2 separate regions of the Homo sapiens genome follow, and region 1 is linked to region 2. Evidence: fine-mapped expression QTL. Tissue or cell type: lung. Region 2 holds a variant in brackets; the other region holds the start of a gene. All regions are shown on one strand. Distances are between the middles of the regions. Region 1 holds the start of PSMA7 (proteasome 20S subunit alpha 7). Region 2 overlaps SS18L1 (SS18L1 subunit of BAF chromatin remodeling complex).

Region 1 (15,306 bases), 18 kb before region 2:
GTGGCTCAGGGTTGAAAAAGAAGGGTGAGAGATGAGAGGACTGCTGTGATTGCACCTAAAGATACACATTCTCTTAAAAAAAAAAACAGGTTAAAAATACGGAAGTTTATTGTAGGACACTCAGTGTGAATAAATGGAATGGAAAGGCCTACACATCGAGACTCATCCATGATTGATATGAATTTAAAAATTACAAGCAAAGACATTTTATTCATCATGATGCTTTCTTTTGTTTCTTCTTTTCGTTTTCTTCTTTTTCTTTTTCAATTTCAGCAACATACTTCTCAATTTCTTCAGGATTTAAAATCTATAGAAAAAAACTTCATGGTTACCTAAGCCACACAAGGTGCCAAGGAACCAGCGCCCTCTTCTGGGGAGGGCGGCCAGGCTTTGGCACTGCTGCTCATACAGCCTCTTTGGAGAGGAACCTCAAGAAAAACAAGAGGATGCTGGCCTGACCTAGACAAGTATTAAGCAGCAGTAGCAGCAGCAGCAGATCTGACTGGCAGCCGCTCAGCATGCCCAGAGAACACGCGTGGACCATCTAATCAGAGGAAGATGGGAATCTTCTCTTTGACGTATGGGGAGCCTCAGAAAGACATTTTCCTAATGTTAAAACCACAGAATGGCCCTATGATGTTTCCTTCGGAACTGGTACTGCTCAGCCCTGATCATGGGAGAAAACTGACAGGTAAAGAAAGCAGACAAACTTGGTGATTACCTTGAGGGATTGATCTCGCCTCATGACAGCAAGTTCAATGTTTTTGCCACCTGACTGAACCACCTTGAAGGGACAGAAGACAGGAGCATTAACCACCTTTCCCTATTCAAGACAAAAGCAGCTCTCAGGAGTACCTTAAATAGGTGTGTACCCAAACCCAGCACCGTCCCAGGAACAGAGGTCCCAGCCCCCAAAACCTGTGTCTTTGTCCTAAACTCATGGCCATTTGTGAAGTCTGTTTGGGATGCCTGCACACCCCTCCGCCTCCCAGCACTGGGACTCCTCTCTCCTGCACAGTAGCGCTGCTCCAGGCCCTCCTCTTGACACAGTGGTTACAACCAGGAATCCTGATGCCTACGCTCCCGCCTGGCCTTCCAGCTAGTCCCTCTCTGGTTTTACCTGCTAGCACTTCAAGGTCTTGACAAAGCCCAACCATATCTCCAGTTCTCTAATCCCCTGACTTTAGCAACAGTTCAAGCCTCTGGAAGGCCTAGTGATGGCTCGAGAACAGATTCCACAGCTGGACAGCTGGGTTCACATCCTGCCTCTGGTTCTCATGCTGTGTGTCCCTGCACAACCCTCAGCTGCCCCGGCTGGATAAAGACACTAATGATCACATCTTGCATGGCTATTTCAAGGAACACAGCAGTTAGGATACACCATAGACCAGAGCAGTGCCTGGAACACAGCAGTCATTAAGCATTACTGCTGGATCCTTGCCACCTTCCTTCCTGCTCATCTACCTACCACTCACCACCAAAACGTGGTATCTTCACCACCTTGCCTGGATTCCAAATGCAAACTTACTTCCAGGAGTGCCTTGATCACCAGCTTAATGGTCAGATCATCTGTTTCAATGGCTTCGTCAGTATAGTTCTTCTCCAGGAACTCGCGCACTGACTTGGCACCCCGACCTATGGCATTGGCCTAAAACAGACACGTATGTTCTCACGTGGCATAGGGCATGACAACCCAGGGCCAGCCCTGGAACACAGCTGCCCTACATGGGCCGCCCAGCCAGTGGCAGTGGCAGGAGGCAAGCTGGAGTGCTGGACAGCAGCTGTGGACACAGGCCCTGCCTCGTGGCTTCCTTTTGCAAAGAGCTCTTTAGAGTTGATGCTGATTCTTACCGAGAATGGGGTTATACGATTGTATGTTTTACTGCGCTATCAAGAGGCAATGGGAGATTTTTTTTTTTTTTTTTTTTTGAGGTAGAGTTTTGCTCTTGTTGCCCAGCCTGGAGTGCAGTGGTGTGATCTCGGCTCACTGCAACCTATGCCTCTCGGGTTCAAGCGATTTTCCTGCCTCAGCCTCCTGAGTAGCTGGGATTACAGGCATGTGCCACCATGCCCAGCAAATTTTTTTTGTATTTTTAGTGGAGACAGGGTTCTGCCATGTTGGCCAGGCTGGTCTCGAACACCTGACCTCAGGTGATCCAACTGCCTCGGCCTCCCAAAGTGCTGGGATTACAGGCGTGAGTCACCACGCCCACCCAAGAATTTTAATTTATGTGGACTACGCTTACACCTTGCTGCCCTTTGATTTTCTTCCAAACAGCAATGTTTAATCATTTTCTTGCTCTCATAGGACTAGGTTAACTTAAACTGACTCATTCACTGATACAGGGCCTACAGCAGGAAGCCCAGGACCTCCCACCCCTCAAAGCCTTTTTCTGGCAAGACTGTCCAAAGCCCCTTTGTCACGAACTCACCTTCCAGGCATGGTATGTGCCCGAGGGGTCAGTCTGATAGAGCCTAGGAGTGCCATCAAAGTCGAAACCCACGATGAGGGCAGAGATGCCAAACGGCCTGCGCCCATTGCTCTGCGTATAACGCTAGCAAGAAAAGAAACAGGTCAGTGCCATCCAATTAAGAAACTGCATGTGAGGAAAGAACCGTACTTAGTGAAGATACGAACATTTTAAACCATGCCTGAGCCCCTTCTCAGGTTATCAGCAGTTCAAATGATACATTAGCCAATAGCTTTCAACATCCTTTTCTGCATTTTCACTCCTAGAAAAACTCACCTAGGACCAGAATTGTGAACTCAGGTTACTGGAAATTACTTTGACAGGTAGACACACATTCTGCTTACATACTAATGGCGTGTCCTCATAGGGTGGCTTCCAGCCCCCTTCAACTGCTTTGTGACTGGTCACTCAGGATGGCAAGACAAAAGCTATCATTTCCCTCCAGACACAGGAATTTGGAATATCCCATGCCAGGAACTGAGAACAGAACAATGTTACTGAAATTGGTGAGCTAGGTCAAGTTACACTTGTGCAAGTCAAGATTAGGATCACGCCCCAGAATAAATCAGTTTTCTGATTCACCTGAAGTGACATGGCAGGACCCTCCATGGCGGAGCCGTGACTGCCCTGCTGCCAGAGGTGAGCATGCAAGCGGGCAGGCACCCACCTGCTTCAGACTGGCGATGTAGCGGGTGATGTACTCCACAGTGACCGGGTCCTCCACAGTCAGCCGGTGGCTCTGGCACTCCACCCGGGCCCTGTTGATGACTATCCTTGCATCGGCGGTGAGGCCTGCAAGGAAAGCAGAGAGGCTTCTGCTAGAGAGACAGCACAAACTACAGGGTGGGGACAGACACGATGACCCAGCATTTAACCTTCCACAGACCCCCCAAACCGGCAGCAAGGCTATTCTAACTGACTGGCAGCGGAACCTATCAGCCCCTGGGAACTTCCAGGAAATTGGGTACAGATGCTTCTTGATGTGCAGTGGGGTGGTATCCCGCTAAACTCATCGTAAGTCAAAAATACCTGGCTGAAAATGCATTTACTACCCCATAAACCCATTGTAAATAAAAAATTGTAGGCTGCCGTGCAGAATCTGGATTTTTAAAAACACAGATCAACAGGGACTGTCTGCATATGAAGAATTGTGTACTTCAGACCATACTTAAATACAGTACCTGAGTCCTCTTGGGAATCTTAGAAATTGAGTTAATCCCTAATTTCATTACATGAATTGAGATCTTCCTAGATTGCATCTGCTGAGAGGAGAAATGAGCAAGACCAAAACAGCGCTGAGAACATGGCGAGGCATGGCCTGCATCCACCAGTGTGGTCCTTTTTACTGCTGGGGATGGCAGGACGTGGTTCTGTCCTCTCCATGCCACAGATGCAGTTAGCTCTAGAAAGTCCAGCCTTTCTCTAGATTGTAACTGATTGATACAGAAAAATAACAGTGGAGGTCAAATTGCGCAGCAGCCAGAAGTGTTTTCATCCATTTAGCCATTTGTTTCACCTGCTATGGCAGAGAGAGGCCACCAAAGAAACTAGCCAACTTAAAAGTCCAAATCCAATTCTTTTAAATGATTTTCATTTACTCAGTTTATATGGCTCACAATAGCCCACACACCCAAGTTAATCTCCAAAGCCCTATTCTTCGCTGAGACTCTAGAGAGTAAGACAGCGCTCCCCACCGACTCATACCTGCAAAGGCCATGCAGACGTTGTCATCCAAAGCACAGATCTTCCGCACTGTTCTTTCATCCTGCAGTTTGGCCACTGACTTCTTCTCCACACCAAGAACAACAATGTCTCTTCCTCGAACACCAACCTTTAATTAAGATCCACAAACCACGTAAGAAAGTGATATGAGTGCTGGGTGCAGTGGCTCATGCCTGTTAATTCCAGCACTTTGGGAGGCTGAGGTGGGTGGATGACTTAAATTCAAGAGTTCAAGACCAGCCGGACAACATGGGAAAACCCTGTCTCTACAAAAAGTACAAAAATTAGCCAGGTGTGGTGGCTGAAGCCTGTAGTCCCAGCTACTGTGGGGGCTGGTGGGAGGATCGCTAGAGCCTGGAAGGTGGAGGCTGCAGTGAGCCATGACGGCTGGGAGACAGAGACAGCAAGACCCTGTCCCCTCACCCCACCCTATCCTCCCAAAAAAGTGATACATGGTTCTACTGCCAGGCAGCGAGCAGTAGGAGCAGATCTGAACCTGGGTCCTGGGGGGTACGTACTCCGGGTAGCAGCTCCCACTGGAAGGTGCGTTCACCCACACCCCTTTCTCCTCTACTTGTCTGTCACTGTGGCTGGCACCACATCCTGCAAACCCAGGGGTATTCATCTACTGCTGGTAGAGCTAGCCCAGGCGTGCTCACCTAGGTGCCCAACCTGGGCCTTTCAAATACTGAGATGTAGTTTTAGTTACAACATAGCTAGTAAGTAACCATTATATAATCGGCATGTGTTTCCTTTCAACCCAATGAATCAGTCCCATGCAAAGCCTGGAAGCCTGAGACTTTCACTCAAGTCTGGTGTTCTGAAGGCAGTGTTTCTGTAGTTGTGAAATTATATTGAGCCACAATGCACTGTTTCCTGCACTGTGACATACTCATGTGACAGCCATGAGAAGGGGCCTGATTTGCCGTCAGTGGACAAGGTGTCAAGTGTTATCCCAAACTGTTTATGGCTGATGCTGGAGAAGGATATGGCTGTTATTAAAAGCATGAACAATCACTGACAGTCAACCCGAGTCAAGCCAGAAACAAAGGGAACCATCATTGGGATAAACAGCGCCTCCTGGTTTAGAGCAGGGCTTCTCCAGCTCAGCACTGTGAGCACCTGGGCAGGGGGATCTCCCTGTGCCTGCCGCCCTGAGCACGGGTGGGATATTGAGCAGCGTCCCTGGCCTCTACCCTCCAAATGCCAAGAGCACCTCTGCAAGGTCTTACCACTGGAAAAGTCTCCACACACTGCCAGTGGCTCCGTGTGGGCCCAAAACCATCCCTGGCTGAGAAGTATTGATCTGAAGTGTTTGGGTTTTCTGGGAGCTTTCTCAGGTACTGACTCACTTGACCTTCGACTGACTCGAGGCCCAGAGAAGCTATATGGGTTCGTTAAAGCCAGCGGCGGCCAGCTGGCGGGGGTGGCAGTATTGGGGTGGGTACAGGGGTCAGCCGACTCCTAGTCCTCTTTAAGCTGAGTTAGATCACCTGATGAATACTGGGCCTTCATTTCAAAACAAAGATTCAGAAAATGAAAACAAATCAAAATTTACAGAACCGTGTGTGCTGCTTTCTCTGCCTGCTCAAACCTCTGAATACCAGATGATAAAAGAATAACGATCTCACAGACTGACCAATTAAACTGACACGTCTTGATGGTACGAATTTAAGTTTCAAACAATGTCACTAAGGTCAATGTACACGAGCCCTCGTCAAAACGAAACGGCCGCGTCCAAACCAGTCCTGACCCGGGCGGCTGCAGCCCGGCCCCGGGAAGGCTCCTCCCGGCAGAGTGCGGAGACCTGGGAGGCGCCCGCCACCGGCCAGGCCAGCGAGCCGCTTTGTTCTCGAAGCCCACCTGGGCCTAGAGAATAAGTGTTGCCCCGGAGCGGGTGGGGGTCCCCATAAGGGGGGTTTGAGTAGTTCGCTCCCCAGCCACCCGGCTGCGTGAACAGCCCCCCAGCGAGCGCACGGCCTACCCCCCGCGCTCCGCGGCCCAGAGCGGCCCTCGCCCGGCCTCTGCTCGCCGGGGCGGCGGCGCGACCCACGCGCCCGGCCGGGGCCAGGGGTGCTCAAGATGGCGTCGTCACGGCCCCCGTGCCCGGGGCCCCACGCGAGGCCGGGCCCCAAGCGAGGCGCTGAGTGGGGAGAACGAGCGCTCGCGGCTCACGCCAAACGCCGCCTCTGCAGGCACTCGTGGAGACCGGCAGCGGGGCCCGCGCTCAGCTACAGCCCTGACCGCCCGCGCCGCTGCCCCGCGCACGCCCGCGGGCGCCCACAGCGCCGCGCCCGGCCCCGGCCCTCTCTGGGCTCCCCAGCCCCACTTCCGCCCGCGTCCCCGGCCCCGCGCAGGCCCCGCCGCCTCACCGCGGTCGAGCCCTTCTTGACGGCCTCCTGCGCGTACTCCACTTGGAAGAGGTGGCCGTCGGGCGAGAAGACGGTGATGGCGCGGTCGTAGCTCATGCCGGCGGGCGGCGGCCGGGCTCCTTCCGCCGCGACTCTCAAAAGCGCACACTCACGGCCCGCGCGCACCCGCGACTCCCGGCGCCACTACGCCCGCGCCCCACCCTCGGCGCCGTGTCCTGCGCTGCCGGCGACGGGCGGCGTCAGGCGGCGACGGGCAGCGTCAGGCGGCGTCGGGCGGACGTGATGGCGCGCGCCGGGGCGGGGTCAGGCCGAACCACCGGTGGCCGGGGGTGGGAGGCGGTGCTCCGGCGAGGGCCGGGCGCTGGGTGCGAGGGGGTCGCCGGGGGCCACCGTTCGGCACTGGGCCGCAGACCGTTCTGCAGGGCGGAGCGGCGGCGCCGCGGGCCCGGAGGCGCGGCGACGGCGACGGGGCGGACGAGCCCACGACGCGGCGCCCCCCGCGCTCCCGCCCCCTTCCCCCCCTCCGCGACTGCGGATAATGAGCGCCTCGGGCCGCCCAGCGCAGCCGGAGTATCCACCTCGATGACCACGGGCTGAGCCCCGCGCCGCCACCATGTCCGTGGCCTTCGCGTCTGCCCGGCCAAGAGGCAAAGGGGAGGTTACGCAGCAAACCATCCAGAAGGTGGGCCGGGCCGGAGCGGCGGCGCTGGGCGGCGGGTCTGCGGGCGGGCGCGCGCGGGGACGGGGCGCGGGCAGCTGGCGGGCGCGGGGCGCGAACAAAGCCGGGGCGCAGCCGGGCGGCCGCGAGCCCCGACGGCGGCCCCGTGCCCTTCCCCGCGTCCCACGCCTGCGCGCCGGCGGGCACCCGGCCGTGTGGGGGGCGGTCCCCGGAGAGCCTGCGCCAACTTTGTTGGGGCGCGCGGGTCCCTCGGGCCGGGGCACTGGGCGGTGGGGGCCGGGCGGACGCTGGAGGCTGCCGGCCCCCGAGCGCGCTGTCCCCCGAGTCCGCGGCGCGCGCTGGGAACTGTCCTGGGCTATGCCGGGCGCACGGGGACCCCTCGGGGCCGGAGCCGCGGCGAGGGCTTGTCGCGCTCCGCAGCCAGCTTCGGTGGCGACGGCGGGCGGTACTCGTTTTCTGCGCTCATTTTGGTTAGTGGTGAGGGGCCCGGGTCGGCCTCCGGGCGCACTTGCGACCGCGGGGACTGTGGCCGGGGCTGCCCCTCTTGCTCCTGGAGCGAGGCGCGAACGATGGAGGCACGGAAGGACGCGTCCCGATCCCCATTTGCGGGGCATCGTTACGCAGCCCGGCCCCGTAGGGAGCGCACCGCCCCCTCCGTATCCTCGCGGCTACGCCGGGTTTCAGCGTGACACCCTCGCCAGCCGCCTCGCCTAACAAACTTGACGGATTTGCTCCACAACCTTTCTTCTAGCTCCGTAAGTTCGGCCTTGTGGTTTTCAAGAGACAGCGTTTATGTGGGTTTGGGACACCGTTATCCAAAGCCCTAAGTTTTGAAATTGAGACTTTGTATTTTCTGCTGTTTTTTCTGTAGAAGACAGATTCGGAAGAAAATCAGCATTAGCCATACCCGTTTCAGTTGTCACAACATCTGTTGGAATGACATTGGTTTTTTTTCCTAAACTCTGACTCCGTCTTCACCCTGGTGGGATTGCAGGGATAAACAGTGGTATTCCTAGGTTCCCAGGAGCCGCTTGTCTCCCTAAGGGGGTTCACCTTGACCTTGACTGAGGCTGTTATTCCTTGATGACGTGCCAGTCTCCTGTGGAAGTTGTCCTAAATCTATCGCCTATTTTGAGACTACCTTTGCTGTTGCTAGTTTTAGAAATTTGATGGTCTTAACAAATGAGAACCTTGGCCAACTCTGAACAGGAGAGATTGAGAATAGCAGAAATACAGATTTACAAGTGTGGCATTTTAATTTACTTAGTAAACACTTATGTGGCGCTTACCGTATCCCAGACACTGTTCTAGGGGTTTTATAAATCTTGATTCATCCAATTCTTCATAGAAGCTACTGGCATCCCGTTTAATAGCTAAAGAGGCTGCGGCCTAGGGAGGCCGTGCCTTGCTGGTAAGTGGACACTGAGGCCTAGGGGGGCTAAATGCCTTGCTGGTAAGTGGCACAGCCAGGTGTCGATCCCATACGGTGGCTCCAGGGTCTGCTCTGTTGGTGCCCCTTGATCTGGGAACATTTGGCCAGGCGGAGGTCAAGCTCTAGGCTCAGAGGCAAATGTTGGAACCCAGAGCATCTCCTGGCACTCTGGTTTTTTGGAGCTTAACAGTCATTGTTCCTGAAGCTACCTTTGGCTGCAACGTTTATCCCATTATTTGCACTTCGCACACAGTTCCATTGAAGCTCCCCAAATTCTCCAGGTAAAAGTGTGTATTGAGGTGCTGCCCCGAACATCAGATCAGAAAGGAAGAAATGCACCTGTGGACCGTGGGTCCCTGGGCAGAAACTCAGCCTGCTGACCATTGGAAATAGGCCTTCAGTTTAGGCTGCTGACTTGGCTTGGTAGGGCCAGCAGTCTGCGTATTGGGCTTGGTGTTTTGACGGTGAATATATGTACCCAGGGATCTTTTACTGGGAGGTGTGAGAAGGCTGAGAAAGGTGTGAGAGGTGTATGTTCTATGCCTCAGACGTGTGCTGTGTCCACAGTGTGTGCTGGTAGTGTCATGCCGAGAGCTTTAAGAGAAGCCAGGGACCCCTCTGAAGCCTGCGTGGTAGTGAAGGAGAAGGAAGTCTACAACTTGTCCTTACAGCATTCTGCGTGGTAGCGAAGGAGAAAGAGGTCTACAACTTGTCCTTACAGCATTCTGCGTGGTAGTGAAGGAGAAGGAGGTCTACAACTTGTCCTTACAGCATTCTGCTTGGTAGTGAAGGAGAAAGAGGTCTACACCTTGTCCTTACAGCATTCTGTGTGGGTGGAGATCTTCCAGGCCAACTTCTACTCAACCTTCAAAGCCTCACTCACGTGTTCCGCGTCTCATGCTCCGTCGGCAGTCATGTGGCCCTTGTAGCACTTGCTTGAGCTCCTGAGTTTGGCATGTGACTGATTATTCTTTGCTGATCCCCAGCCTCTCATAGTGTCTGAGCACAGTTAGTGCTGAGCACGTGCTGGATCATCTGTGACGCTGGTCCCATCAGTGGAAGCGTTTTGAGATAAGCAGATGCGTTCGTGTCCTGTGACTTCCTTGACACATTCCCACAACCCAGGTGGCTTCAAACAACAGAAATCTATTCCCTCACAGTTCTGGAGACCAGAAGTCCCAAGTCCAGGGGTCAGTTACCTGCTCTTCTCCTGGCTTCTGATGACTGCGGGCAGCCCTTGGTGTTCTCTGGCTTGTAGGTGCATCCAGCGTGTCTCTGCTTTGATCATTTTTTTTTTTTTTTTTTTTTGAGATGGAGTTTCGCTCTTGTTGCCCAGGCTAGAGTGCAGTGGCGCGATCTCGGGCTCACAACCTCCGCGCCCCCGCCCACGTTCAAGGTTCAAGCGATTCTCCTGCCTCAGCCTCCTGAGTAGCTGGGATTATAGGCGCGTGCCACCACGCCCGGCTAATTTTGTATTTTTAGTAGAGACGGAGTTTCTCTGTGTTGGCCAGGCTGGTCTTGAACTCCCGACCCCAAGTGATCTGCCCCCTCCCCCCCTTAGCCTCCCAAAGTGCTGGGATTACAGGCATGAGCCACCATGCCTGGCCTCAATTTCCCACTTTTTATAAGGACTCTAGTCACTGGTTTTAGGGCCTACCTTAATCCAGCATGACCCCGTCTTTATTTCATTTTCAAATACCTCATTTCCAGTACCTCCCATGCGCAGGCACCAGGGGTCTGGGTACAGTTTAGCCCACGAGAGTGCGTTTGTGGTGAGGGCTATCCCAGAGAAAGAGAACCATGGGGCAGGGGCAGGGAGTCACAGAGGGTCCCGAGCCTGGCCTGCATGGAGCAGGTATTGGGGGACCTAAAGTGGAAGGGCAGGGGGTGCTGGGCTGATGTGGGGAGGGTAGCTGGTGGTGACCAGGCAGCAGTGTGTGGGTGAGACAGTCAGAACTGCTCTGTGGCAAGCACCACAGAGGACATGACTGTGCTGGGGAACCCTGCGGTGGGGCTGGGCCATGTCCCCACGGTGGCCCTGGGCCTGGCTGGGTGTTCTCTAGCCACCAGCTGGGGACTGTAGTGTTCTGTTGTCCAGTGCGTGCTCCTTACGCTGCTGTTGGGGCTGGGCCTGCAGTGGTCACCTCGGACCATGTGGCCAGGCTTGAAGGGGACCCCTGAGTTGCCTCTTTGCTGCTTGGCATGCAGTAATTGCTCAATAAATGTGTTACTGTTTCTGTTTGTATTGGTTTTCTCATTGGTTTCCTTGGCCGGATAATAGCAGTGGTGTCTGCCTGTCTGCTGGGTGTCTGGATCCCCAGCACCTGTTGCGGGGCAGGGTTGGGGAAAGGCTCTGAGGGAATGGGATGGAGCTGAGAGGAGGTGGGCCCCTGGGGCCGCCTGCTGGGTGGGTTTGGTGTGGGAAGACAAGACCTTCGTGGGGTGGGTTAGTGCCGTGCCCAGGGTCCGAGAGCCAGGGAGTTGTTGAAGCTGGACCAGCCCTACCCCATGTCCTTGGTACCCAGGTGCGGGGGTGGGGCATGGGCAAGGGGCGCACTTCTGGGTGGGGATGGGCTGCGGAGGATGGGGTGCACACCCAGTAGGCAGTGGGCACCCTGTGTGCTCCCTCAGAAGTGGAACTTGCTGTCTGAAGGAACGCAAGCTAATTTGGCTAGGAGTGTTTGTAAGGTTAAAGCTGTCCAGTGACTGAATGGCTTGGGGATGCCGAGCCTCCCTTGCATGTGGCTGATTGACAGCGTTCCTCCTGCGATCAGAGGCTCCCCCCACCCGAGAAGGGGAGCATGGGGGCCTGTCTTTACATCCGCAGGGATAGGGGGGTTGGGTCCCCTCATTCCGGAGCCTGGGCTCAGCCCCGGGGAGGGACCCCGCAGCCACCGGCCTTGCTCGGCCTCCTTGCTGTCTTAGGTCAGGTGAGGGAGGCTCGGCCTCCTTGCTGTCTTAGGTCAGGTGAGGGAGGCTTGGCCTCCTTGCTGTCTTAGGTGAGGGAGGCTTGGCCTCCTTGCTCTCTTCGGTCAGGTGAGGGAGGCTCGGCCTCCTTGCTGTCTTAGGTCAGGTGAGGGAGGCTCGGCCTCCTTGCTGTCTTAGGTCAGGTGAGGGAGGCTTGGCCTCCTTGCTGTCTTAGGTGAGGGAGGCTTGGCCTCCTTGCTCTCTTCGGTCAGGTGAGGGAGGCTCGGCCTCCTTGCTGTCTTCGGTCAGGTGAGGGAGGCTCGGCCTCCTTGCTGTCTTAGGTGAGGGAGGCTCAGCCTCCTTGCTGTCTTCGGTCAGGTGAGGGAGGCTCGGCCTCCTTGCTGTCTTAGGTCAGGTGAGGGAGGCGCTCTGCAAGGCCCTTGAACCCAAGCGCCACGGGGGAGGTGGGCAGGAGAAAGGCATTGTCCTGGAGGGAGCAGCCACAGCCTGGCCTCTGTCCCCCCTCTGCCTGTAAAGCCTGGCCATACACCCTCTTGCTGGATGCTCCTGAAGCTGCTCTCCCAACTCCTACCCAGCCTGGAGGGTGAGGACGCATTTGGATAAAGACACTGTGCCTGCCCACTGCCCTTTACCCGTGACCTTTCCAAGGCTGGTGGGTCTCCAGAGTCCCTGTCTGCCATCCAGTCGCCGGGTGTGGAGTCTGGAGCCAGCAGCCAAAGGCAGCCCAGGTCTTGCCCAGGTGGTGCTCGCTAGCCGGCGGTCCTGCGGGTGCTCTCCTCGAGGCTCCGGCCCTTTGCGCGGTCTGGGCCCTGGGCCAGTGGGTCGGGGCCTGGGCACCTGCCTCTGTGTGCTTGGAGTCAGAAGACAGATTCCCTGGAATCCCCGGGCTGCAGGTGGTGGCAGTGTCACGCCCGTCCCCAGTGGATGCAGGAATAAACAGGCCCTGGGTGCCGAGCAGTTAGCGGGCTGGCGCTGATGGACCGTAAGGCCTGTGGGGCCTGGGAGGCCTGGGAAGAGGGAGTGCAGGTCTTCCCGCCTGGTTCGGGCAGGCACCTCCACCACCTCCCTCCATGTGATCACAAGAGGAGTCCAAAGGGTTGGGAGAAGGTGCCATGGATGATGGTAGGAAGGGGGCTCCTGTGACACTGGTCTGATTCTAATCGGCCACCACAGCTGCTGTGCACAATGGGGACGGAAATGGGCTGTTTATATCCTCCTCAAATGGGAAATAGGTGTGGAATGCAGGCAGGTCCTTGGTGTTACCAGGATGGGGATGGGGGCCATGGAGCTGCAGGAGGGCAGGGTGGGGCAGGCCGGGCCTCCTGGGCTCACATTCTTATCCTGCTGATGGTGATGTGTGCTTCGCCTTTCTGTGCCCCAGTTTCCTTGTCTTTACGAAGAGGACAGGGCTGTGGCCTCCCTCATAGCCTGTATGGGTAAGGCAATGCCCAGCAGCCTTGTAATTGGTCAGCTTTAGCCTTTGATCAGGCACTCAACGAGCAAGGAATGGCCGGAATTTATCCGTGGTATTCGGAAAGGGAGGTGAGGACTCCATTCCAAACTGCAGGAAACCATCGCAAGTCCAGGGTCATGTCAGAAAGAAAAAGCAGTGTCAGCACATGGATGAGATGCATACAGACGTCGCGTGTTGCTAGTACAATAAGCACGTCTCCAGCTTGGAAACTGTCAGGAGCACAGTGATTTTGTTGTGTTGTGCTGTGCTGTGACAGCCCAAAGCGCCATGAGACTGGAAGTGATTGCCAAGGCACATGCAGAGGCGGCTGCTCTTGTGTCTGTTCAGCGTGTCTTCACATGTTCTTAGAGTCTTTGAAATTGCACACACACGTCAAGCATACAGCGGTGGGGCCGTGAGGCAGCAGCCAGCTCCTCTCAAGGAGACTGCACATGTGTAAATTGAGACGCTCTTCTGAAACCTACACACCGACTTCACGGATTCCACAGTTGGGTGAATGTTCAGAGGGGTCCCACTGGCTTCCATCAGTGGAGTCTGTAGTATCGGCTTGCTGACCTCGGGGGCAGGGACGGAGCAGCTCAGGCTGGGCTCAGAGGGAAGGACTGCTGATGGGTCAGCGATGTCTGCCCCGAGAACAGGAGTGGCAGGCGCTAGCGCAGGTGCCATCGCTGGCTTAGCCACCTGCTGATGCTCGACCAGCTCTCCGGTTAGCCAGGCTGGTCCCCCTCACACCTTGATGACTCCTAGGAATTGATTCTGCGTCTGTGTCCACGCCATGCGTGGGGAGTGCATGGCAGCCCTGCATGTAGTGGCAGAAGACGGGGAACAATTTCAATGTCTGTCCAAGCAGACAGAGTACTACGTTGTGTCCATGTTGTGGAATTCTCCGGAGCATAAGAAACATTGAGGTGGATTTTTTTTTTTTTTTTTTTTTTTTTTTTTTTTTTTTTGGAGACAGAGTCTTGCTCTTTCGCCCAGGCTGAGGTGCAGTAACGTGATCACAGCTCGTGCAGCCTTGTCCTCCTGGGCTCAAGGGACAGGTGAGGTCTCTATGTGCTGACAGAGGACAGTCTCCAAGATGTTTGAGAGGAAAGGGAGCTGTGTGGAGCAGCGGGAGCGAAACGTTATCAGGTGTGTGCAGAGTCGGGAGGGGAGTGCACAGGCTCCATGCCAGACGCTTCCAGAATCGGCAGAGCTGGCCTCTGGGGAAGAGGAGCCAGGGGTTCCTCCTGCAAAATTAAAAAGGTTCCAAAAGTCTTTGTAATTAGAAAGGACAACCATGAGGACACTGGAGGTCTTCCTGCCCAGTGTGGGCTGAGCCAGCCCCGGCAGTGAGCCTCAGAGCCCCAGGCCTCCTCTGTCTGGCTTCCAGGGCCCCACACAGGTTGTCATTGGGGAGAGACTGTTCTGCTGAGAGCCCCTCACCCAGGTTTTTGCCTGGTAGCCCCAGCCCTTCCCCTACTCTCTGTGGGCTCTGGGACCCCAGTTCTCCGTCCCTGGTTCTCATCCTCACTCCCTCGCCTACCCAGTTAGGACCCCACGGTGGGGCTTCAGCAGCCCCAGACCCCATCCTTGGTGCCTGGCTGTGCCCTGGGCCCTCCAAGCCAAGCCCCGTGTCCCCCGTCAGTCCCCGCTTGCCAAATCCAGTTTCTCTGCTCACCCACATGGTCCATTGCCATGGCCGTGGCTTCCGTGCCCCTTGGGTTTGTCTCCCTGTGGGTGCTGGGCTTGGCCCTGGGCATCAGCCAGCCTGACCAACAGAGACACGTTGGGGCCACCCCTCAGAGCCTGAGACCACAGGGGTGACCACGCAGAGAGGGAGTGGGAGGCCCAGGTGTCCCAGCTGCCCCAGCCACGAGCCCAGCCAAGCCCAGCAGAAGATCCTCCGAACCAGCCCAGAATCATGAGAACTAAGAAATCATGTTTCAACCACGCGGCTCCGGGAGGTTTGTTGCGCATTGGGTAATGGATGCACCCAGCCGCGTTGGGATCTTGGTCCAGCCAGTCTCTGCAGTGAGCACAGGCTTTGGTTGAGAAAGTCACCCCCACAATGGGCACAGGACTCCTGTCCCCCAGCAGCCCCCGTTCCCCTCTTTTCCCGCTCCCCATAGCTGGCCTCCCCCGTTCCCCTCTTTTCCCGCTCCCCAGAGCTGGCCTTCCCCGTTCCCCTCTTTTCCCGATCCCCAGAGCTGGCCTCCCCCGTTCTCCTCTTTTCCCTCTCCCCAGAG
Region 2 (15,306 bases):
TTTTGTTGGATTTTTTTAAAAAGTTTCAGGCCGGGTGCAATGGCTCATGCCTGTAATGAGCACTTGGGGAGGCAGAGGCGGGCAGATCAGTTGAACCTAGGAGATCGAGACCAGCCTGGGCAACACAGGGAGACCCTGTCTCTACCAACAACAACAACAAAAAAAACCCATTTAGCCAGGCATGGTGGCACACACCTGTAGTCTCAGCTACTCGGGCGGTTGAGGTAGGAGGATCACTTGAGCCTGGGAGGTGGAGGTTGCAGTAAGCCAAGATCACGCCACTGCACTCCAGCCTGGGTGACAGAGCGAGACCCTGTCTCAGAAGAAAAGCAAATAGAAAAAGTCTCCGTCTTGCATAACCTTCATCTTTGGATTTTGGCCTCTGTGGCTGGTTTTGGCCTTTGTCTTTCAAATGGCAGGTGGGGGCCGCACCGCTGTGGCTTCTGCGGATTGGAGGCCGGGGCACTGCCTGCTATGCTCAGGCAGGCGTGTGGCCTGTGGTTCACTCTGAGGTGCTCTTTCCCTTCAGTGCCCAAGCATCTTTCCTCCAGGCTGGTCACTTTCCTGGAGACGCCCCCTCCTCCAACCCCATCTCCTGCCAGCAGATCCTGGGCGACCCTGAAAGGTGCCAGAATTTTAACATTCCTGAGCCTTGTGGGGCTTCGCAGCACAGTGTGGCTCAGGCCAGGTGCCCTGGGGGCACTGATTCAGTTGTTACTCATCCATGTGCTTTTCAGCTTCCAAACTCCCGCTGCTGCCATCTTGTGCCCTCCCCATTCTGTCCTTAGAAGGCCACACCTGTTCCATCCTTAGTCGCCGGCCGGGGCCTGGGGTTTGGGGTGTCCAGTCTTCCACCTTTCATTCTGCCTGTCCTGCCCTTTTTCAAGTGGGTATGTGTCTAACATACATGAGAAAGTTCTCTGTATCCAGTTTTCTAAACACCCACACCAGTACTGTGTTTCGTCGTGCTTCGTCGTGCGTACATAAACCTCGCGGCACTGCCCTGGCCAGTGCACACCCGCGGGGCTCTGCCTAATGAAGTCAGTGGCTTGCGCCCCCCGGCCCATCCCGGCCCCGTGCTGGGAGTGATGCTGAAATGCCCGCCGTGTCTAGTTCGTGTCCCTGGAGACAATCTCTGCCTGGGGGTTAGGAGTCAAGGAGGGGAAGCCCTTTAGAAGGAAAGGAAGAAAGCCCATAGTTGTCCCTTCCTGCAGTTCATCTGAAGGCAGAGCCATCTGGAATGCTGGCGCCTGGCAGGTGGACTCTCCCTCACCTGCCCACTGGTAAGCCTGGCCCACAGTGTCCCCTGGCGGCCCCCCACCCCCATCTCAGGATGGCTCCTCGGCCCCATTGGGCTCAGCTGAGTGCAGGGCACCTTGTCCCCAGCAGGGAGAAAAGTGGTAAAGAGTGGAAAGGGGGAAGGTATAACTTTAAGAAAAAATAGAGCAGGAGAAACCAACCCTGAAGTCGTGGAGACCGGCGGAGGAGGAAGCTGAGTTGAGGGCAGTCACTCAGCTGGGGCTGTGGGTCCGGGCTCTGCCCTGTGAGCTGGCCTGGCTTGGCTCTCTCCACCCTGGGCTCCCTCTGCCTGTGGATGAGTTTGGGCCCCAAGGTCAAATCGCAGTTAGAGGGGCCACGTTGCAGGGTGGAGGCACAGCTGGGTGGCCCCAAGGCCCCAGGCAGGCAGGTGGGCTCCTCCTCCCCTTGCCCTGGGGCTCCCCTGCTCCAGGGCCTGTAGAGCTCCTGTCGGGAGCGGCCTCCTAGGGCTGAGTGACCCAGCACGCTGTAGTGGAGCCAAAAGGCACTGCTTTTTCCTTGGGTGCCAGCCTCTGAGAAAAGGCCTTTTTATGAAAAGCAGCAGGCGTGGTGGGCTCAGTTCTGTGCCTCCCTGCAGACAGAGGCAGCTGGTCACAGGGCGGGTGTCGCCTCTTCTCAGTCCCCTCCCATACCCCCTCTCTCCTCTCTCGCCTCCCGTTGGGTCTCCGCGGGCCACCCAGTGCTGCCCCCAGGTGGACACCTTGAAAGAGCCGGCTCTCCTGTGCCTGCTCCCCACGGCCTGTGGGCGTCCTGTGTGGTGTCTGCAGGATGCCGCCTGGCCCCAGCCCCTGTTCCTCTGCTGCCACCCACCCCTCCCCACTTCTACCAACCACCAGACTCAGCACGTCCTGACTACGTGCAGGTGTGTGGACGCAAGGCCTTGGGCCGCTTGATTTGGGGAGTGCTCCGGAGCCCTCCTGGGGCCACAGAGCACGTTCAGGAGGCGCTTTGGGAAGGAAACCTGGGGAATCTGTGGGCCCAGCCCCCTGCTGCTCAGGTGTGGCCAGGCACGTGGGTCACCAGGTCAGAGACAGGCTGAGCCCCTGCATCTGACAGGTTCCTGGCAGTGCCCATCTTGAGCGCAGACCGTGCTTGGCGGAGTGTATGCCTGGCCGTCCCTGGACCAGAAGCCTCCATTTTGCCAGTTCTAGGAGCACGTGGCGCCTGCAGAGAGACCCCTGGCCCAGCTCTGGGAGGCCCACATCTGGCTGTTCACCTGAGTCACTTGAAACTGGTTTAATCTGGGTTTAGGGTCATGACCTTGTCTGTGCACACACACTTTATGTGTAAGACACGGAAGGTTCAAGACGGGACCGGCCTTCCCTGTGTGGCCTGTGGGCCTATCGTGCCGTTCTCCTGCATTTCAGCGCAGCACCCCTGGGGGTGAGGGCTGCGGGGTGCCAGCCCCAGGTCTAGGTCATGCCCGGTTCCGCAGTCTCACGCATCTTTTCTGCCCCCACGCCGGCCTGTGTGTGTGTGTGGTTTCTTCTACCGGTGGTGCCGTCCCTGACCCCCCCAGACCCTTTCCTTCCCTCCCTCACCGCGGTTGGTGCAGCCCCTGCAGGAAGTCTCGATGCCCTTACCACCTGGGAGTGCCCTGGACCCCTGCTGATCCTTGGGAGGGGGCAGTTACCTGTGCCCCACCCTGTGTGGTTGCAATTCGAGGCTATCCCCTCCAGCTAGGGGCACCAGGGCCTCTTGTGGGGTGCCCACAGGGTCCTGACATCCTTGCCATCGGCTTGGCTGACCCTTGCTGCACAGATGCTCTGCCGTCAAGGGCCCTGGAAGCTGGAGGGTCCTTCGGGCTGGGGGCTGCTGGGGGCACGGGGCCTCTGTGTTTTCATTTGTGGGCTTAGATGGCCCTGCCGCTTACGGATGAAGTCCCCAGCACAGGGAGGTGTGAATGTTCGGTCTGTGGTGGCTGAGGCAATGCACGTAACGACAGTTTCGTATACAGAACAGGCGTAGCATCCGAGATCTGGAAATTTGAAGTGCTCCAAAATCCAGAACCTTTTGAGCACCAACATGAGGCTCAAAGGAAATGCTCATTGGAGCATTTTGGATTTCGGGTTTTCGGATTAGGGATGCCAAACCGGTGGGTCTAATACAGATATCCCCAAATCTGGAAAAATCTGAAATCTGACACGTTTCACGTAAGGGACGCTCAACCTATATGAAAACTAGATGTGTAGCGATGGCTGTTCATCCCGAGGGTCAGCGACAGCCCCGCGTCGGCAGCGCCCGCTCACGCTCTCTCCGCAGATGCTGGACGAGAACCACCACCTGATCCAGTGCATCCTGGAGTACCAGAGCAAGGGCAAGACGGCCGAGTGCACGCAGTGAGTGCCCGCCATACACCGGAACACTTGGAGGGTGTCATGCAGAGTCTAAGCACAGAGGCCAGATACGTCCCAAGAGTCCCCCAGCACAGAGATCAGATAAGTCCCAGGAGTCCCCAGCACGGAGGCCAGATATGTCCCAGGAGTCCCCTGCACAGAGGCCAGATATGTCCCAGGAGTCCCCCAGCACGGAGGTCAGATATGTCCCGAGAGTCCCCCAGCACGGAGGCCAGATATGTCCCGAGAGTCCCCCAGCACGGAGGCCAGATATGTCCCGAGAGTCCCCCAGCACGGAGGCCAGATATGTCCCGAGAGTCCCTGGCACAGCTGCGAAGCATTGCTGCCAGAACTGGGGTAGTTCTGAGGGAGGCGGAAAGTGGGAGGCAGGAGCAGTGTGGGGAGGCCTGGGCCAGCCTCTCTGGGCAGCTCTGTGGCCAACAGCCAGCGCACCAGGAGACAGCACCTACTCCAGGTGGGACCTCCTGTGACCCTGTGAACCTAGGGCCTGATGCGTAGGAGGGGTGCGTGGCCAGTCTGCCACCCTCCAAGCGGCTGTCCAAGTGGCCGTCAGACTGACCTGGAGGTGGGAAGTGCGTGAATGGCCTCAGACACCCCTGGGTGTGGGTGGGGTGAAGGGACTGGGTCCCCACTGGTGCGAGGTATACGAGGGGCCTTCCCTGGCAGAACTGTGCTTCCCCATTTCTTTCCAGGGCTTTCTCAGGGTCGTTGGCTCTATGGAGTCCGCCCACTGCCTGGCTCAGCTGGACGAGGGCTCTGTCCCTCTGTCACCTTCGGGCCCCTGCCTCCTCGTGGCCTCCCCCCATCTCTATCCTCTGAACAGACCAATGCCAGCTTCCGCTTAGCTGTTACCTTAGAGTCTTTCCAGAGTTTTTGTCATGGGTTGGGAGCCTGCTCAGGGTTTGGGGTAGAGGCTGCCCTCCCGTCCCCACCGAGACCCCAGCACCCTGCCACCTGCCTGTGTCCAGCTGGGTGTCATCTGGGGTCCATGTCCTCATGGGGTTTGGCTGGATGTCAGGCTGTCTTGTTCACACTTTACTTCTGCCTTGGATCCACGTGGGGACTCTGTGGTCCCGTCGTCCTGCCTCATGCGTGCCCCCTCTCCTGCAGGTACCAGCAGATCCTGCACCGGAACCTGGTATACCTGGCCACGATCGCAGACTCCAACCAGAACATGCAGTCCCTGCTTCCTGCCGTGAGTACCCACGGGGGGTTGGCCTCCTTTACCCAGCAAGGACTCCGACACTGCCTAAGATCGGAATTGTGGGCATGTCATCTCAGGTAGCAAAGATGACTCAGAGAAACCAAAAATACCACTAGAGCCACCAGAAATGGGAGTGTGGGCGGTGGTGACCAACCCTTCCTGACAGACTGGGAGTAATGACAGCGTCTGAGGTGGCCAGGTCAGAACTGTGGCTCAGCCTCGTTATGTATTGAAGGGAGGGAAGCCCCGGAGAAGCCACTCCAGGAGCAGCCGCAGCTCTCGGGTCGGGGGTGGGGAGAGGTGGGATGGGGAGAGGTGGGGTGGGGAGAGGTGGGGTGGGGTGGGGAGAGGTGGAGAGAGGTGGGGTGGGGAGAGGTGGAGAGAGGTGGGATGGGGAGAGGTGGGGAGAGGTGGGGTGGGGAGAGGTGGGATGGGGAGAGGTGGGATGGGGGCCCTGCGTCTCCCTGGAGCCTCTCCGGGTGCTTTGAGCCACTGTGAACCGTGCACATGCGCTGCTGTGGGTGAGAACGGAACTTAAAAGAGAACATGCCCAGCACAGTAAATTCTCCCAGTGTTAGTTCAAATATTTTATTTTGTTTGATTTTTTAAAATGCATTTTTCCAAGATTAAATTGTCACAGTGAAGACGAGGTCGTGCTGCTGCAGCCTCTGTCCTGCTGACGGGGTTCCGGGACAGACATGTCGCCGGGAATGACGTATCTCCTAGTGACCCTTAGTCCTCGGCAAGTGATGACATAAATGCCAGGATGTGTCTTGCGAGTAAAAATGTTAAACCCACCTCCATTGACCTGTCAAATTGCACTTCTTCACCCTGCAGACACCCACAGGTCCTGGTGGAAATTTCCTTTTCTTGGCCAGGTGTAGACAGCATGTGTGTGCAGACCTCCAGAGCTGCTGGTTGACCTTGATCTGGGAGAGTGCTGAGGGCCACTTCACACTCACTCCCTTCTGTGCGGTGTGATCCGAGGCGGGTGTGGGGTGGGGGTAGTCGGGGAAGGGGCACATGCAGCAGGAGCACGGGAAACAGGAGAGGGATCCCACCTCTGCCGAAGCTCTTGGCACGGAGGGGTCGTGGTTGGGGAGCACAGAGGCGCTGGTCACCTGCGCCCGAGGGGGACGGGGTGCGTTCAGCCTGGTGGGCCGGGAAAGGGGTTCCCTGCTGTCCCAGGAGGAGGTCCAGCTTTTCACACCCAGGCACGTGTGGATGAACTTGATACTCAGTAGGGTTGTGAACGCTCACCCAGATGCTCACTCTGCCATCTCCATCTGGGCCTGGTGCTCTGCGGTCACCTGGCTGTGACGATGGCTGCTGATTACGAACATTGACCAGGTGGCCATGATGTGTGGCGGCAAATCTCGGGTGCCCTCTCATCCCTGGCCTGGCTTGTGGAGGTCGCTCTCCGTAAATTAACCGTTTTTCCCTGAAAACTTCCTGTTGCCTGCAGCCGCCCACGCAGAACATGAACCTGGGCCCTGGAGCCCTGACTCAGAGCGGCTCCAGCCAGGGCCTGCACTCTCAGGGCAGCCTGAGTGACGCCATCAGCACGGGCCTGCCACCCTCCTCCCTCCTGCAGGGCCAGATTGGCAACGGTGAGTGCGGCGGGGGAGGAGGACGTTCCTGGCTACGAGGCCACCAAGGCAGCCCTTGGGCAGCCGGCTGCCATGGTGGGGCACCCCACCCCTCACAGGGCTGGGCATGGGACCCACTCCTCCTGGGGTAGCCACAGGTCGGCTGCCATCGCCCAGGCTCAGGGCCGCAGCGAGCGTGCCGTGCGGCTGGGCTGAGCCCCTGCTCCAGTTGTCCACTCTCTCTGACACTGTCACGTTCCATCAAATTCAAATGCAAGTTGCGGGGTTCCAGGTGGATTGTGTAATAGGAATGGAATGCTCCTGTCTTTGGATTGAGAAGCATGGATAACGTTTGGAGACCATTAACAGTAATATAACAGGCCGGGTGTGGTGGCTCAGATCTCTAATCCCAACCCTTTGTGAGGCCTAAACCAGCAGACTACTTGAGGCCAGGAGTTTGAGACCAGCCTGGGCAATATGGCAAAGCCCCATCTTTACAAAAAATAAAAATATTAGCCGGGTGTGATGGTGCACACTTGTAGTCCAAACTGTTAAATACTCGGGAGACTGAGGAGAGAGGGTCACTTGAGCTTGGGAGGGTGAGGCTGAAGTGAGCCTTGTTCATGCCACTGCCCTGCAGCCTGGGTGACAGAGCCAGACCCTGTCTCAGAAAATAATAACAAAATAACAACAAATAAACGATTCATCCTGTGCTTTGCTAGCATGTACGCTGCTTTGTTTTCTTTTCTTTTTTTTTTGAGACAGAGTCTCGCTCTAGTCGGCCAGGCTGGAGTGCAATGGGCATGATCTTGGCCCACTGCAACCTCCGCCTCCCGGGTTAAAGCAGTTCTCCGGCCTCAGCCTCCCAAGTAGCTGGGATTATAGGCACGTGCCACCACACCTGGCTAATTTTTTTGTATTTTTAGTAGAGACGGGGTTTCACCATGTTGTCCAGGCTGGTTTCGAACTCTTGACTTCAGGTGATCCACCCACCTCGGCCTCCCAAAGTGCTGGGATTACAGGCATGAGCCACTGCTCCCGGCCACTTATTTATTAGTCACTTAATCATTAATAGTGCTGTTGATAGCAACTCTTCCCAAAGTCACTTGAAGGGAAATTGGGGTGTCTTCACCTTCAGAAGTGGTGACCTGGCTCCCCAGTGCCTGACACCACTCCCTGCTCCCCATGCCAGGGCCGAGCCACGTGTCCATGCAGCAGACGGCGCCTAACACGCTGCCCACCACCTCCATGAGCATCTCTGGGCCCGGCTACAGCCACGCGGGACCCGCCTCGCAGGGCGTCCCCATGCAGGGGCAAGGCACCATCGGCAACTACGTGTCTCGGACCAACATCAACATGCAGTCCAACCCAGGTACCTACTCTGCCTCTGCAACCCCGGGGGGCCTGGGCCTGCCTCCAAGACCCTTGACACATGCACGTTGGACATGTGGTCCCGGGGAAGCTGCCCTCCTGCTGGGTGCTGGAGGGGAGGGGCCCGTGAATCGGGGCTGGCCGCTGCCTCTGAGAGCTTCCGGAGGGATGGGCGCCAGTGGGTGCACGATCAACTCCTCCTGTCCCCCAGCTTTGCGAGGGGCTGGGGTGTTTCCCATGGAGTCTCAGGGAATGCCCCAGGGAGTGGGGGCCACTGGCCCTGGGTCTGGACAGACAGCACTGGGCTCTCAGAGGTGGGGTAGAGTCGGTGCAAGCAGCGGGTCTGAGCTTGCAGGGCGTCAGTGCAGGCCACGTAGGGGAGGCGTGCCTTGCGGTGGAGGACGCTGTCCTCGTGGGGAGCACAGGAAAATAACGAGGAACCCGCCCGGGCGCAGGAGGTAGTTGGGTGTGGGAGGGAGGGCGGGAGGCTTCCCGGGGTGATGTGGGGCCTCTGTCCTGTCGTTCAGTCTCCATGATGCAGCAGCAGGCGGCCACGTCGCACTACAGCTCGGCGCAGGGCGGCAGCCAGCACTACCAGGGCCAGTCGTCCATCGCCATGATGGGGCAGGGCAGCCAGGGGAGCAGCATGATGGGGCAGCGGCCCATGGCGCCCTACCGGCCCTCCCAGCAAGGTAACGCCCGGCCGGGCCAGGTCGCGGGCACAGCTGACCGCCGCGGGTCGTGAAGTGCCAGGCTGTGTGTGCTTCTCTTCGGGGAGCCTGGGGGAGTGAGGCGGGGAGCCTGGGGGAGTGAGGCTTGGCGCCTTGGTGTTAACATTGAGTGTGGACCCTGGGGGTGAGGGCCAGGGTGTGGCCCGTGGAGGGTCTGCTGTCCCCGAGGAGTCAGTGTTGGGGGCAGGGGCGGCAGTTGTCATTAAGAGTGTCACAGGCCGGGCTCATGCCTGTAGTCCGAGCACTTTGGGAGGCCGAGGTGGGCGGATCACCTGAGGCCAGGTGCTCAAGACCAGCCTGGCCAACATGGTGAAACTCTGTACTAAAAATACAAAACATAAGTTGGATACGATGACAGCGTGGGGT[G/T]TTCTCCTCGGGTGGGTGAGGCCATTCAGCAAGGCCTTGGCTTCCCCAGTGAGCGAGCAGGTCCTCTGAGGGAGGAGGGCGCGGCCCGCACTGGCGCTGAATGTGGTTCCCCCGCAGGCTCTTCCCAGCAGTACCTGGGCCAGGAGGAGTACTATGGCGAGCAGTACAGCCACAGCCAGGGCGCCGCGGAGCCCATGGGCCAGCAGTACTACCCCGACGGTGAGCACTGGCGGCGGCCTGACCCCGCCCAGGAACGCAGAGCAGCTGCAGGGGCAAGGAGGGCAAGGAGGGCAAGGAGGGTGTGGCCACTGCAGTGTGTCCTCAGTCATTCCAGCTCAGGCCTGGGCTACAGGCAGAGTGGCCAGACGCCCTGCAGGAGCAAGGTAGGGGATGGGGTGAGCTGGGCTGGCAGTGGTGCCTGGCCTCTGCAGAGAGAAGCTGTGGCACACACCGCTGCACTGGCCTCCACGCGGCCTTGCCTCTACTTCCTGAAAGGCTGTGGGAGTTGGAGGCGGATAATTGTAGCTCCTAGCTGTAGATAGGTGGAAATGTTCAAGAAGGCGCCTCCCAGCTTCACAGAGAATGCCCTGAAGGTGACGGCTCCACCTGCAGCACCTCTCCTCCTGCACCTTCTCATCTCTGCAGAGTATTTTACCGTCGTCACCTTTCAGTCTTTGCATAGTCCCAGGGCTTGTGGAAGGGATACTGAAAGTGGTCTTGGCTGAAAACAGCGGTTCACACCTGTCATTCCGGCACTTTGGGAGGCTGAGGCAGGAGGATCGCTTCAGCCCAGGAGGTTGAAGCTGCATTGAGCCATGATCGCACCACCACACTCCAGCCTTGGTGACAGAGCAGGATCCTGTCTCTAAATAAAGTAAAAATAACAATAAAATAAAGTGGTCTTAAAGGCTGGATTGATCCCTGGGAGGCATCCAGGCAGGGAGCTGGCCTCAGCCAGCAAGGGGCAGGTGCACAGACAGGTGGGCAGGTGGCAGCAGGGCAAGCCACCCTGGCCACGTGATGGTCACATGCAGCGAAGGCCTCGGTAAGGGTTGGACACCCCTGCCTGCGTCCTCCCAGGAGCTAGCGGTGGCGGGGAGAAGGCAGTCGGGTCACTAGCATGGCTGTGTGGCAGGCACTGAAAGCGCTGATCCTCTGCATAAATCCCCAGGTAGCTTCACAGTCGCCCCGAGAAGGAGGCATTGATGTCTGCATTTCAGTGGGGAGGCCGAGGCTCAGGAGGTTGGGGCATGGTTTTGGGGAACACGGGTCCTGCCGGCTCTTGTTGCCTCCCTGGCCAGACAACATCTCCCCAGCCTGGGTCTCAGTTGCCTCCTCCGGGACCTGTGCAGTGCACAGCCTCCGCTGACTGTCGCCGTCTCCGTTTCGCACAGGCCATGGCGATTACGCCTACCAGCAGTCATCCTACACGGAGCAGAGCTACGACCGGTCCTTCGAGGAGTCCACGCAGCACTACTATGAGGGGGGTAAGGAGCACGGCTGCGTGCTGGGCTCGAGCGTAAGCGCCACACGCAGCAGAGTTAAGACGCTGCACCCTTAGGAGCACGCGGTGCCTGCCTTCAGTGAGTCCCTTAAATCACAGCACAGCGCGTGGGAGGAGAGACAGTGTGTTCTGGAAGCTGGAAATTCAGGCTGTGTCGGGAGCCCCGCTTGCCTTATGGGTGTGTTCGTGAGACAGGAAAGGATTCAGCCGGCCATGCTGGGGTTGGGGGCACAGACTTGGTTATTGGGTCCAGCCAGGGAGCGTGGGGCCTGCGACAGGAAGGATTCAGCCGGCCATGCTGGGGTTGGGGACACAGACTCTGTTATTGGGTCTGGCCAGGGATCGTGGGGCCTGCGAGCCACTCTCAGAGCTTCCTCAGCTGGAGGCCAGCAGTGGCTGCGCTGGGTGTGGCCTCGCGTTTCTTCAGACACCTGCAGGCCAGGAAACGCACATCTGTGGCTGGGGGCTTGCCGCCCTTCATGGCGGTCCTGGGCAGTGCTGCGCTGGGGGCTGCGTGTCGGGTGGACTTGCCCCTTTCTGTGGTGTCTGTGCCCCCACCCTGGCTGCCCTGAAACCCCAACAGAACATCCCAGAATGTGGAGTTGGGAAGAGGTACACACAGCCCGTTCCAGTCCCACCCCGGGATAAAGATGGCCCCCAGAGAAGAGCTGATGATCGCCTGCGGGATTGCGCAACCTCGTCCGGGAGGGAAGGCGGGCCTGCAGTCCCTGGGGAGAGGGGCCTCGTGTCTGCTGACGCTGACCGGCAGGCAGCAGTGGCTGAGGCCTTCCCACTGCAGGGCTGCAATTTATCAAGAGGTAACAGTGTTGGTGAGGCTTCACCAGGTACACAAAGCAGGCAGGCACTAAACGGCTACAGATTTCCTTGTTTGGGTTACTTCTTAAAGAATTGGATGTGTAAAGGTTTTGCTTCTGAGCTTACACATCTCAGCCTGCTGTGAAGAAATAAAGCACGCAAGTGTAGGCACATATAGAAACATCACGGTGTGCGCTACGAATGCCTGCAACGTTGAAATGTCAGTTACACCTTTGTAAACCTGGGGGAAACAAAAAGTACATGAATACATAATGAAAGTTTAAAAGAAGAAAGAGCCTAGGTGTTGTGGCTCACGCCTATAATCCCAGCACTTTAGGAAGCTGAGGTGGGTGGATCACCTGAGGTCAGGAGTTTGAGACCAGCCTGGCCAACACGGTGAAACCCCGTCTCTACTAAAAATACAAAAATTAGTTGGACGTGGTGGCATGTGCCTGTAATCTGAGCTACTCAAGAGGCTGAGGCAGGAGAATTGCTTGAACCCGGGAGGTGTAGGTTGCAGTGAGCTGAGATCATGCCATTGCACTCCAGCCTGGGCAACAAGAGTGAAACTTTGTCTCAAAAAAAATAAAAAGAAATAAAAAAAAGAAATGGCCAGGCATGGTGGCTTACGCCTGTAATCCCAGCACTTTGGGAGGCCAGTGGAGGAGGATTGCTTGAGCTCAGGAGTTTGTTTGTTTTTTTTTTTTTTTTTTTTTGAGACGGAGTCTCACTCTGTCGCCGAGGCTGGAGTGCAGTGGTATGATCTTGGCTCACTGCCACCTCCGCCTCCCAGGTTCAAGCAATTCTCCTGCCTCAGCCTCTTGAGTAGCTCGGATTACAGGCCCCGCCACCACACCCAGCTAATTTTTGTATTTTCAGTAGAGATGGGGTTTCATCATGTTGGTCAGTCTGGTCTCGAACCCCTGACCTCATGATCCACCTGCCTCAGCCTCCCAAAGTGCTGGGATTACAGGCGTGAGCCACCGCGCCCGGCCGAGCTCAGGAGTTTGAGGCCAGCATGGGCAACATGGCAAAACCCTTTCTCTCCCGAAAAAAAAAAAAAAAATGCCGGGCGTGGTGGCGGGTACCTGTAATCCCAGCTACTCAGGAGGCTGAGGTGGGAGAATCGCTTGAACCCAGAGGCAGAGGTTGCAGTGAGTTGAGATTGCACTACAGCACTCCAGCCTGGGTGACCGAGCCAGACCCTGTCTCAAAACAAAAGCCACCCTGTGGCCAGCACCCAGAGGCTATCTTCTGGCATATTGGCTGCAGTGGTGCCTCCGTAAGCCCTGGGAGTCAGCAGGATCTCTGCCATCATGGGCCTGGCCCTGTCCCTTCCAGCTGGAGCACAGGGTTCAGCCTTGTCCATGGCGAGGTGTCCACATGCGTCTGCCCAAGGCTGCCACACTTTGTCCCAAAAACAAACGCAGGATGTGCTGCTCAGCCTTTTAGTGTCTGATGTAGCTACTTTTTTTTTTTTTTTAAAGAGACAGGGTCTTGCCCTATCACCTAGGCTGGAGTGCAGTGGCCTGATCGTGGCACACTGCAGCCTGGAAATCCCAGGCTCAAGTGATCCTCCTGCTTCAGCCTCTCGAATTGCTGGGACTAAAGGCATGCACCACCAGGCCTGGCTTTTTTTTTTTTTTTTTTTTTTTTAATTTTTGTAGAGATAAGGTCTTGCCATGTTGCCCAGGCTGGTTTTGAACTCCTGGGCTCAAGTGCCACCTCAGCCTCCTACAGTGCAGGGGCTCCAGGTGTGCGCCATTGTGCCTGGCTGATAGGTACTTCCGTAGCTTGTTGTGGGTTAGGTACTCTTGCCTTCCATCATTGATGAGAAATTTGCTGAAAAGCTTAGTAACCTCTTAAGGCCAGTAAGACAGATGGTGTGGTTTCCTCCTTGATTTAGAAGCATTTTATTCCATCTGTTTGTTAGACTCTGACATGAGGAGTGCACATACATGGTGACACTTTACCCTACAGCAGGTGGTACTGTGAAGTCTTGCAGGGGTGAGAGGCCTGGAGATGCTTTGCTTTGAAGAGATTGGCGGATGTGTCATAGCCACCTTCAAACACAACTGTGGCCCATGGTGCAGTGGAGAGGCTGGGGGGACGTTAGGAGGAATGGGTCAAAGGCACCATAAAGAACTTTCCAGGCCGGGTGCAGTGGCTCCCACCTGTGATCCCAGCATCAGGCCAGGTGCAGTGGCTCCCACCTGTGATCCCAGCATTGTGGGGGCCAGGGCAGAGGATCACGTGAGCCTGAGAGGTCGAGACCAGCCTAGGCAACATAGTAAGACCCCCTCTCTACTAAAAAACATTAGCCAGGTGTGGTGGCATGCGCCTGTTGTCCCAGCTACTTGGGAGGCTGAGGCAGGAGCATAGCTTGAGCCCGGGAGGTCGAAGCTGTACTTAACTATGATCACACCACTGCGCTCCAGCCTTGGCAACAGAGCAAGACCCTGTCTCAAAAATAAAAAGAATTTTCCAACTTTTGAGTCATCCCACAGCAGGATGAGTGGGACAGGCTGGTGCTGGAATTGTTCCTGGTGACGGCATCAGTCAGGAGCCTGCAGAATCTGATAAAACGAGAGGGTGTTCATGCGCAGGGCACCAGTAATAGGAGGGGACCAGAGTGGGGCTGACCAAGCCAGGAGGGGACAGCGGGGGCCACGGGGTCACTTGTGCTGGGCAGGAGCATCGGGATGTGGTGCTCGGTGGGGGAGGGGCCAGGAGAGGGTGCGAGTCCCGCGTTCGCGTCACAGTGAGGTTTGCAGTGACGCATACTGGACAGAGCGCAGCCCCTCGTGACCTGGCATCTGGGCGCCATTGCTGCTAGGAGAGACCGCCCATGAGCTGCCAAAGCCAAGTATGGAGCTGGGCGCATGGGATGTGCCTCTGTGAAAATGCAGGCAAGAGGAGACTGTGCCCTTGCACACACGCACACTCACACCGTCAGCCAATGGACAAACACCAAAACAACCAACACAAATGCTTCCGGGTAGGAGATGGGGTTAGGGCTCAGGCAGTCCAGAGCAGGGGTGGAAGCGGCCACCTTCCCAGGACCTCTTGAAGGTATGAGTCCGTCTGTATGTACCTTTGAATCATGTAGATGTATTGGCAGCTTCAGAAGTTAAATTAAACATCATTGGGGCCGGGCAGAGTGGCTCACGCCTGTAATCTCAGCACTCTGGGAGGCTGAGGCGGGTGGATCACTTGAGATCAGTAGTTTGAGACTAGCCTGGCCACCATGGTGAAACCCCATCTCGACCAAAAATACAAAAACTAGCTGGGCTTGGTGGCGCATGTCTGTAAAGCCAGCTGCTTGTGAGGCTGAGGTATGAGAATCACTTGAACCCAGGAGGCAGAGGTAGCAGTGAGCCAAGATCACGCAACTGCACTCCAGCCTGGGGCGGCAAAGCGAGACTCCATCTCCAAAAAAAAAAAAGGAACATCATTGGCTGTCACAGAAACTGAAAGGACCTCACTTTATGGCTGTCCACACCGTCCACACCTCCTGGAGTCCCGAGCGCGGCTGGCGTGTCGTGTGCATTTCTCAGGCCCTCGCCAGGTGGTGACCAGCGTGTCCCAGGAGTGGACGACAGGGTGGTGTGGCCGGGGCCTGTGGGACTCATCTTCCCTGGGCAGTGCTGGGGCCGCCTTGGCTGCGTCCTCGTGTGGATCACTGTGTTTTTATGTGACACGGCTTTGAGCGTCGTTCACATGTTCCTCGTGGCTCATTGTGTCCACATCTTGCTCCTTCTGAGGAAGCAGAGGGTGTGCCGTGGCCTCTTGTTTCACACACAGATGCGCCATGCTGCCCGGCACCTTCTCACGGGCACCCCGCAGAATGCCAGAGGATTCTTAGAGAAAGAAAAGAGCTGGGCACGGTGGCTCACGCCTGTAATCTCAGCACTTTGGGAGGCCGGGGCAGGCGGATCACGAGGTCAGGAGATCGAGACCATCGTGGCTAACACGGTGAAACCCCGTCTCTACTAAAAATAGAAAAAAATTAGCTGGGCGTGGTGGCGGGCGCCTGTTGTCCCAGCTACTC

The links. PIP is the estimated chance that this variant, and not a neighbour inherited with it, causes the effect.
Region 1: PSMA7 starts here. The variant in region 2 is fine-mapped to the expression of PSMA7 in lung (TOPMed, PIP above 0.99).

The regions. Positions count from the first base shown.
Region 1 is chr20:62,136,643-62,151,948 of GRCh38, forward strand. It overlaps PSMA7 (proteasome 20S subunit alpha 7), which reads right to left and starts at 6,752. Exons shown (of 7, transcript NM_002792.4): 1 at 6,566-6,752; 2 at 4,176-4,302; 3 at 3,139-3,263; 4 at 2,433-2,555; 5 at 1,529-1,648; 6 at 722-784; 7 at 91-307. The coding sequence starts at 6,661. The coding sequence ends at 215. It overlaps SS18L1 (SS18L1 subunit of BAF chromatin remodeling complex), which reads left to right and starts at 7,127. Exons shown (of 11, transcript NM_198935.3): 1 at 7,127-7,247. The coding sequence starts at 7,179. RefSeq lists silencers at 5,954-6,593, 6,634-7,343, 7,464-7,523, 7,554-7,603 and enhancers at 12,851-13,145, 13,075-13,812.
Region 2 is chr20:62,155,093-62,170,398 of GRCh38, forward strand. SS18L1 (SS18L1 subunit of BAF chromatin remodeling complex) reads left to right here. Exons shown (of 11, transcript NM_198935.3): 2 at 3,580-3,656; 3 at 4,785-4,869; 4 at 6,344-6,488; 5 at 7,660-7,839; 6 at 8,366-8,530; 7 at 9,053-9,154; 8 at 10,330-10,422. Among named protein-coding and RNA genes, the nearest start is that of SS18L1, 19 kb to the left of the region's middle. RefSeq lists enhancers at 4,944-6,143, 5,826-6,438, 6,439-7,051. The variant G/T (reference allele first, on the strand shown) is at 8,936.